Linked DNA regions of Homo sapiens. The protein of the gene in region 1 purifies or fractionates together with the protein of each later gene. This does not show direct contact. Each region holds a gene or a part of one and is shown in the gene's direction. Other genes may lie near its edges.

Evidence for each region.
Region 2: the proteins of PAPOLG (region 1) and HARS1 fractionate together in Homo sapiens (co-fractionation; one large-scale study listed by BioGRID). This does not show direct contact.

What each region holds. Positions count from the first base shown.
Region 1 is NC_000002.12:60,762,768-60,766,267, forward strand, and holds part of PAPOLG (poly(A) polymerase gamma), read left to right. Parts: intron 1-3,500. UniProt on the Homo sapiens protein: Responsible for the post-transcriptional adenylation of the 3'-terminal of mRNA precursors and several small RNAs including signal recognition particle (SRP) RNA, nuclear 7SK RNA, U2 small nuclear RNA, and ribosomal 5S RNA.
Region 2 is NC_000005.10:140,677,871-140,681,370, reverse strand, and holds part of HARS1 (histidine--tRNA ligase, cytoplasmic), read left to right. Parts: intron 1-1,487; coding exon 1,488-1,583; intron 1,584-2,243; coding exon 2,244-2,369; intron 2,370-3,355; coding exon 3,356-3,463; intron 3,464-3,500. UniProt on the Homo sapiens protein: Catalyzes the ATP-dependent ligation of histidine to the 3'-end of its cognate tRNA, via the formation of an aminoacyl-adenylate intermediate (His-AMP). Plays a role in axon guidance.

The sequences.
Region 1 (3,500 bases):
AGACGTGTACCACCACACCGGGCTAATTTTTGTATTTTTAGTAGAGACGTGGTTTCATCATGTTGACCAGGCTGGTCTCGAACTCCTGATCTCAGGTGATCCGCCTGCCTCAGCCTCCCACAGTGCTGGGATTACAGCCTCGAGCCACCGCGCCCAGCCTAAATTTTATTCATTATTTTATTTTATTTTTTTTTGGAGACAGAGTCTTGCTCTGTCACCCAGGCTATAGTGCAGTGGCATGATCTCACCTCAGCCTCCCCAAGTGCTGGGATTACAGGCTTGAGCCACCACGCCCAACCATAAATTTTATTTTATTTTTTTTTTATAGACAGGATCTCCCTCTGTCACCCAGGCTGCAGTACAGTGGCACAGTTACATAGCTCACTGCAGTCTCAAACTCCTGGGCTCAAGTGATCCTCCCACCTCAGCCTCCTGAATAGCTGGAACTGTAGGAATGCACAATTGTGCTTGGCTTATTTTGTTTATTATTTTTTGTAGACACAAGAGTATCACTGTATTACCCAGGCTGGTCTCAAACTCCTGGTCTCCAGCAGTCTTCTGACCTCAGCCTCCCAAAGTGCTGGGATTACAGGCATGAGCCACTGCGCCTTGCCTAAAATTTGCTTGATTTTTTATGGCTTTTTCCCCCCAGTATTTTTTATCTGTGTGTGATTGGTTGAATCTGCAGATGTGGAAACTGCAGATACGGAAGGCTAACTATATTTTGAATATAATTGTTTTTGTTTTTGTTTTTGAGATAGAATCTTGCTCTGTCACCCAGGCTGGAGTGCAGTGGCGAGATCTCAGCTCACAGCAGCCTCTACCTCCCAGGTTCAAACGATTCTCCTGTCTTAGCCGCCCAAGTAGCTGGGGCTACAGGTGCACACCACCATGCCCAATTAATTTTTATATTTTTAGTAGAGACGGGGTTTCACCATAATGGTCAGGCTGGTCTCAAACTCCTGACCTCAGGTGATCTACCCGCCTCAGCCTCCCAAATTTCTGGGATTACAGGTGTGAGCCATCACACCTGGCCTTGGTTTTGTTCTTGTTTGAGACATGGTCTCTCTCTGTTGCCCAGGCTGCAGTGCAGTGGCGTAATCTTGACTCACTGCAACCTCCACCCCTGTGTTCAAGCAGTTCTCTTGCCTCAGCCTCCCGAGTAGCTGGGATTACAGGTGCACGCCACCATGCCCAGCTAATTTTTGAATTTTTGGTAGAGATGGGGTTTCACCATGTTGGCCAGGCTGGTCTCGAACTCCTGACCTCAAGTAATCCATTCTCTTCGGCCTCCCAGAGTGCTGGGATTACAGGCATGAGCCACCATGCCCTGCCTCACAATTGAATTTTTATTATTGTCTGAGAATCACCACTGCGAAGGTTATTTTACTGGCTGTACCAGAATGAGGGAGAGAATGTTCAACTGGGTGATACCATTTGCCTCATCACTAGGTAGCCCATACTGTTATATTTTAAGGTTTTTGTTTTTCATAGTTTTCCTATCTTTGCCTTAACAGCAGTCAGTTGAAAGCCCACTGTTTAAAAGAAAGCCCACTGTTTAAAACTCACAGTTGTCAGTGTGTCTAGCTGTAAAGTCCCTTTCTGCCCCTTAATCTGCATGGATTTAGAAATTAGGTAAACAACTGCAGATTTTTTTTTTTTTTTTGGCGATGGGCTCTTACTCTGTCACCCGGGCTGGAATGCAGTGGCGCGATCTCAGCTCACTGCAACCTCCGCCTCCCAGGCTCCAGCAGTCCTCCCAACCTCCCCACCTCAGCCTCCCTAGTAGCTGGGACCACAGGCATGCACCACCACACCTGGCTAATTTTTGTATTTTTGATAGAGACGGGGTTTTGCCATGTTGGCCAGGCTGATCTCGAACTCCTGAGTTCAAGCAATCCAACTGCCTTGGCCTCCCAAAGTGCTAGGATTATAGGCATGAGCCACCACACCCGGTCTAGAATTCTTTCTTTTACAGCTTTTATTATTTTTTTCTGTAGCTATGATGAATATGTAGAATTGGTTCTTTTAAACAGTGGGCTCAGAATAAAGTTGAGTCTCCTAAAGACTACAGTCGTTGAGTTTAACATGGTATTTATGCTATTTACTTTTGTTGCCAAAAGGCTGTCTGCCTCATTTCTGAACTCACCAGGGTTATCAATAGTTGAAGTTATTGGATGAGTCAAATTCTGAGCAGATGGAAATGCTAGTGACAGGTAGTCAAAAAAAATAAAGTTAGTTAACATCTTCCATTGAGCAGATGAGGTCATTTTTCTTTGTGAATTGTAATTGTCTCTTTTGTGTGGGGGAATGGGGGAAGGATCTCTCAGTCTGTCTCCCAAGCTGGAGTGCAGTGGCATGCATAATCATGGCTCACTACAGCCTCAAACTCCTAGGCTCAAGCAATCCTCTCACCCCAGCCCCCCAAGTAGCAGAGGCTACAGGTACACATCCTGATGCCTAGCTACTTTTTTTTTTTTTTTTTTTTTTGGTAGAGATGGGGTCTTGCCATGTTGCCCAGGCTGTCCTCAAACTCTTGTACTCAAGTGATCCTCCTGCTTTGGCTTCCCATAGTGTTGAGATTACAGGCATGAGTCACAACCACACCCAGCCTATAATTCTCTTTTTTTTTTTTTTTGATTTTAAAAAAAAAAGTGACGAGGTCTCACTGTGTTGCCAGGCTGATCTTGAACTCTTGAGCTCAAGTGAACCTCCCACCTCAGCCTCCCGAAGTGTTAGGATTATAGGCATGAGCCACCACTCACAGCCTGTAATTCTCTTTATGTATATTTTACTTTGGAAAGTAACTGAAGGATTTGGGTTTAATCAAAGATGATTTGAATCTGTACACAATTGGGATATTTAAACTTTAAATAGTGTAGAATCCCACATCAAATCATTTTGGTTAGATACTATGGCTGTGGCAAACTGATTTAGCATATCACTTTCTCATAAATCATGCGAGAATCAGACTTCTCAAAATAGAAATGTGAACTAAAAGATTTTTTTAAGGTCCTGTCTTCTCTGTCCATTTCATTCATGTTAATCATCAATAAATTTACAGATTCCTGGGCATGGTGGTGCATGCCTGTAGTCCCAGCTACTCAGGAGGCTGAAGCAGGAAGATCTTGAGCCTAAGAGTTCAAGGCCAGCCTGGGCAACATAACAAGACTCTGTCTCTTTAAAAAATCTGATTAATTTACTAACTTCTTTCTAGCTATAAAATTATTTGTGATACTCTTAACCTTAATATTCATTACACAGAAGCATTAACAAGGATAATATCCTATTATATAGATACTTACATTCAAGTTGAAGTTAATCAGCAGATATTCTTTAGAACTTGTACTGGGCATTGTGAGAAAATACAGAGAAGCAGTAGACACAGTTCTTAACTCTGAGAAATGTAAATATGATTGAAGATTAAATATGAAATATGATTTTACATGCCAAAGAAGTCAGTAAATATAGCAAAAAAGAATTTAAGAATTGTAATGGCA
Region 2 (3,500 bases), on another chromosome or scaffold:
TACATCGTCTTCCCTCTGTCCCTATCTAAATTTTCTCTTCTTACAACAACATATTGGATCAGAGCCCAACTTGGAGACCTCATGTTAGCTTAATCATCTCTTTAAAGACCCTATCACCAAATGTAGACATGTTCAGAGGTTACTGGGAGTTAGGACTTAAACAAATGAATTGGGGAGGGTGGGGCCAGGGGGACACAGTTCAGCCCGTAACACTAGTGTGTTACTGTTTCTGATACTGCATACTGGGAAGTTTCAGGCTTTTTAATCTTTGCCAACCTGGTAAGTGAAATATGCTATTACCGATGATAGACATCACAGGGCAAGGACTGCTGTAATGCCCTTAAGACATTCCCCAGTTTTTACTTTTGACATTATTCGAATCTCAGGCATCAAAAAACATTTATGTTTATTGGTCTGATAACCTATTCCTAGTAGTTTATCATCAAGAAAAATACTTTTTTTTAAAAAAAAAAAGAGCTATATACCTAAATATTAGATATTGAAATGTTATGGGGAATTTTTTTTTTTTTGAGACAGAGTTTCACTCTCGTCACCCAGGCTGGAGTGCAATGGTGCGATCTCTGCTCACTGCACCCTCTGCCTCCCGGGTTCAAGCGATTCTCCTGCCTAAGCCTCCGAATAGCTGGGATTAGATGCCTACCAGCTCCCCCAGCTAATTTTGTATTTTTAGTAGAGACAGGGTTTCACCATGTTGGCCAGGCTGGTCACGAACTCCTGACCTCAGGTGATCCATCCGCCTTGGCCTCCCAAAGTGCTGGGATTACAGGCGTGAGCCGCTATGCCTGGCCTAAAAAAATTTTTTTTTAAATTAGAATAACCTAAACACCTAACAGTATAACATGAGGGAGGAAGTAAGTACAGAGCTTCTTCTCACTGGAATTTATGCATCTTTTAAAAACACTTCAGGCCGGGCGCTGTGGCTCGCACTTGTAATCCCAGTACTTTGGGAGGCTGAAGCGGGCAGATCACGAGGTCAAGAGATCGAGACTATCCTGGCCAACATGGTGAAACCCTGTCTCTACTAAAAATACAAAACTTAGCCGGGCATGGTGGCACCCGCCTGTAGTCGCAGCCACTCTGGAGGCTGAGGCAGGAGAATCTCTTGAACCCCGGAGTCAGAGGTTGCAGTGAGCCGAGATCACGCCACTGCACTCCAGCCTGGTGACAGAGCGAGACTCCATTTCAAAAAAAAAAAACAAACTTCATGCTGAGAAGTCTGAAGAAAAAAAAGATTTTTAAGAGGAAAATGTGTAAGAAAAATACTTCAGCTCTGTTACAAAATCAAAATAGAAAAAAACACAAAATTGGTGTTTCCTTTTAATGATAACTACATCAGACACCTAAGAATTGGGATAAAGAGCAGAGGGAAATGTAGACAAGTTGGAATCAGTCATGTTTGTTTTCAAAACTTCCTTTTAAATTGTTATGTTTATTATTATGACCACATTTATTTATGTTTTCTCCAGGAAACACTGATGGGAAAGTATGGGGAAGACTCCAAGCTTATCTATGACCTGAAGGACCAGGGCGGGGAGCTCCTGTCCCTTCGCTATGACCTCACTGTATCTTTCTAAACTTGGGCTCTTGAGACTTTGGATGGATTGGCACTCACTTGGCTCAGGTTTAAGAATGGTAGAGTAGGTAGGATCAAATATGAGGCCTTTGGCGATTAGGGGAATTATTTCTCTAAACCAGGAGTGGAACTTTGGCTAAACAGAGCATACACATCCTTAGAAATCTTCTGAATCCTGAGTGAGACCTCAGCTTGATGTCAGGGCCCAGTTCCAACTCTACAGTCATCCCCTGGCTCCAGAATACCTCTCCCCTGCCCTGTCCAGTGAACAAAATTCTTCTTAATGGACTAGCAACACATTTCCCTTGTCTCCAAGCTACACAGAGAATCATCTGCTTAGAAATCCCATATGGGGGCCTTTTTCTGGTCGCCTTTTTCTGGTCTGTGGCCAACCTGCCCAGCCCCTTGCCATGCTCAAAAAAGTCCAGTCAACACTACAAAAGGGAAAGGTGCCTTAATCTTTTTTGAGCCTTCAGCTACCTCATGTGGTAGCACAGCTGATGCTTTCTGATGTTTGTAAGTGCTATTAATCTTATGGGTGGCAGTTTTACCCACATAGGGAGGGGTTAGACCCCAGCTTCTGTTGGTGATGATAATCAACTTGCAGACAGTGATAGGAGGGGCTTTCTCCTTAACTCTTTGTCATCAGGTTCCTTTTGCTCGGTATTTGGCAATGAATAAACTGACCAACATTAAACGCTACCACATAGCAAAGGTATATCGGCGGGATAACCCAGCCATGACCCGTGGCCGATACCGGGAATTCTACCAGTGTGTGAGTGTTGGGAAACCGTGGGGCAGGATGAGTTACTTGGGGCTCTCTCAAGCCAGCAGAATCTATTGAGTACTCACGGTGTCCTGAGCAAATTGGATGACCCAGATAATGCTCTTAGGGTTTCTATGGTGGTTTTTTTGTTTGTTTTTTGTTTTTTTGAGACGGAGTCTCGCTCTGTTGCCCAAGCTGGAGTGCAGTGGTGCAGTCTTGGCTCACTGCAACCTCTGCCTCCTGGGTTCAAACGATTCTTCTGCCTCAGCCACCTGAGTAGCTGGGATTACAGGCGCCTGCCACTATGCCCGGCTAATTTTTTGTATTTTTAGTAGAGACGGGGTTTTACCATGTTGGCCAGGCTGGTCTCGAACTCCTGGTCTCATGATCCGCCTGCCTCGGCCTCCCAAAGTGCTGGGATTACAGGCGTGAGCCACCGCACCCAGCCTCTTCTATGGTGTTTTCATGCAGATTTCACAAAATCCCTGTGGTGGGGGAGGAGAATAAAGTCTCTTCATTTTACATATGAGTAAACTTGATACCCAGCCCATGAAGAGATCATAGGGATAAGAAAGGCAAAGTCAGGACTAGAACTCTTGGTCCAGTGCTCTTTATTTTAAACCACAGTGATAGGATCACAGCAGAGAATAAGGAAATTAGCTTTGATACATCAAATCATCCAGACTGATGCCAGGGCTTCTGGATGAATAGGGAAAATGGCTAAGCACTAAAGCCATATAATCACCCCATCCAGTAGGAGGAGTTAAGAAGATGATGAAGTAGAAAATGAAGGAATAGCCCAGTAGATGGAAAGGAAACCAAAACTGGTGAGAAGCCCAAAGATGCCGGGGTTTACCTCTGGGCTGATGATCAGAAAATGAAAGAGAAATTCTATGCTTGAGTGCAACCAGGCCTTCCTAGAGGACAGAGCTCCCAGAGTCCCCCCTTCAGAAAGGTGAATCCCTGAAGACCGCTGGCTAACCCTCTCCCTGCAGGATTTTGACATTGCTGGGAACTTTGATCCCATGATCCCTGATGCAGAGTGCCTGAAGATCATGTGCGAGATCCTGAGTTCACTTCAGATAGGCGACTTCCTGGTCAAGGTCAGAGCTGACAAGGCTGGGAGGGCAAAGTTGGGCC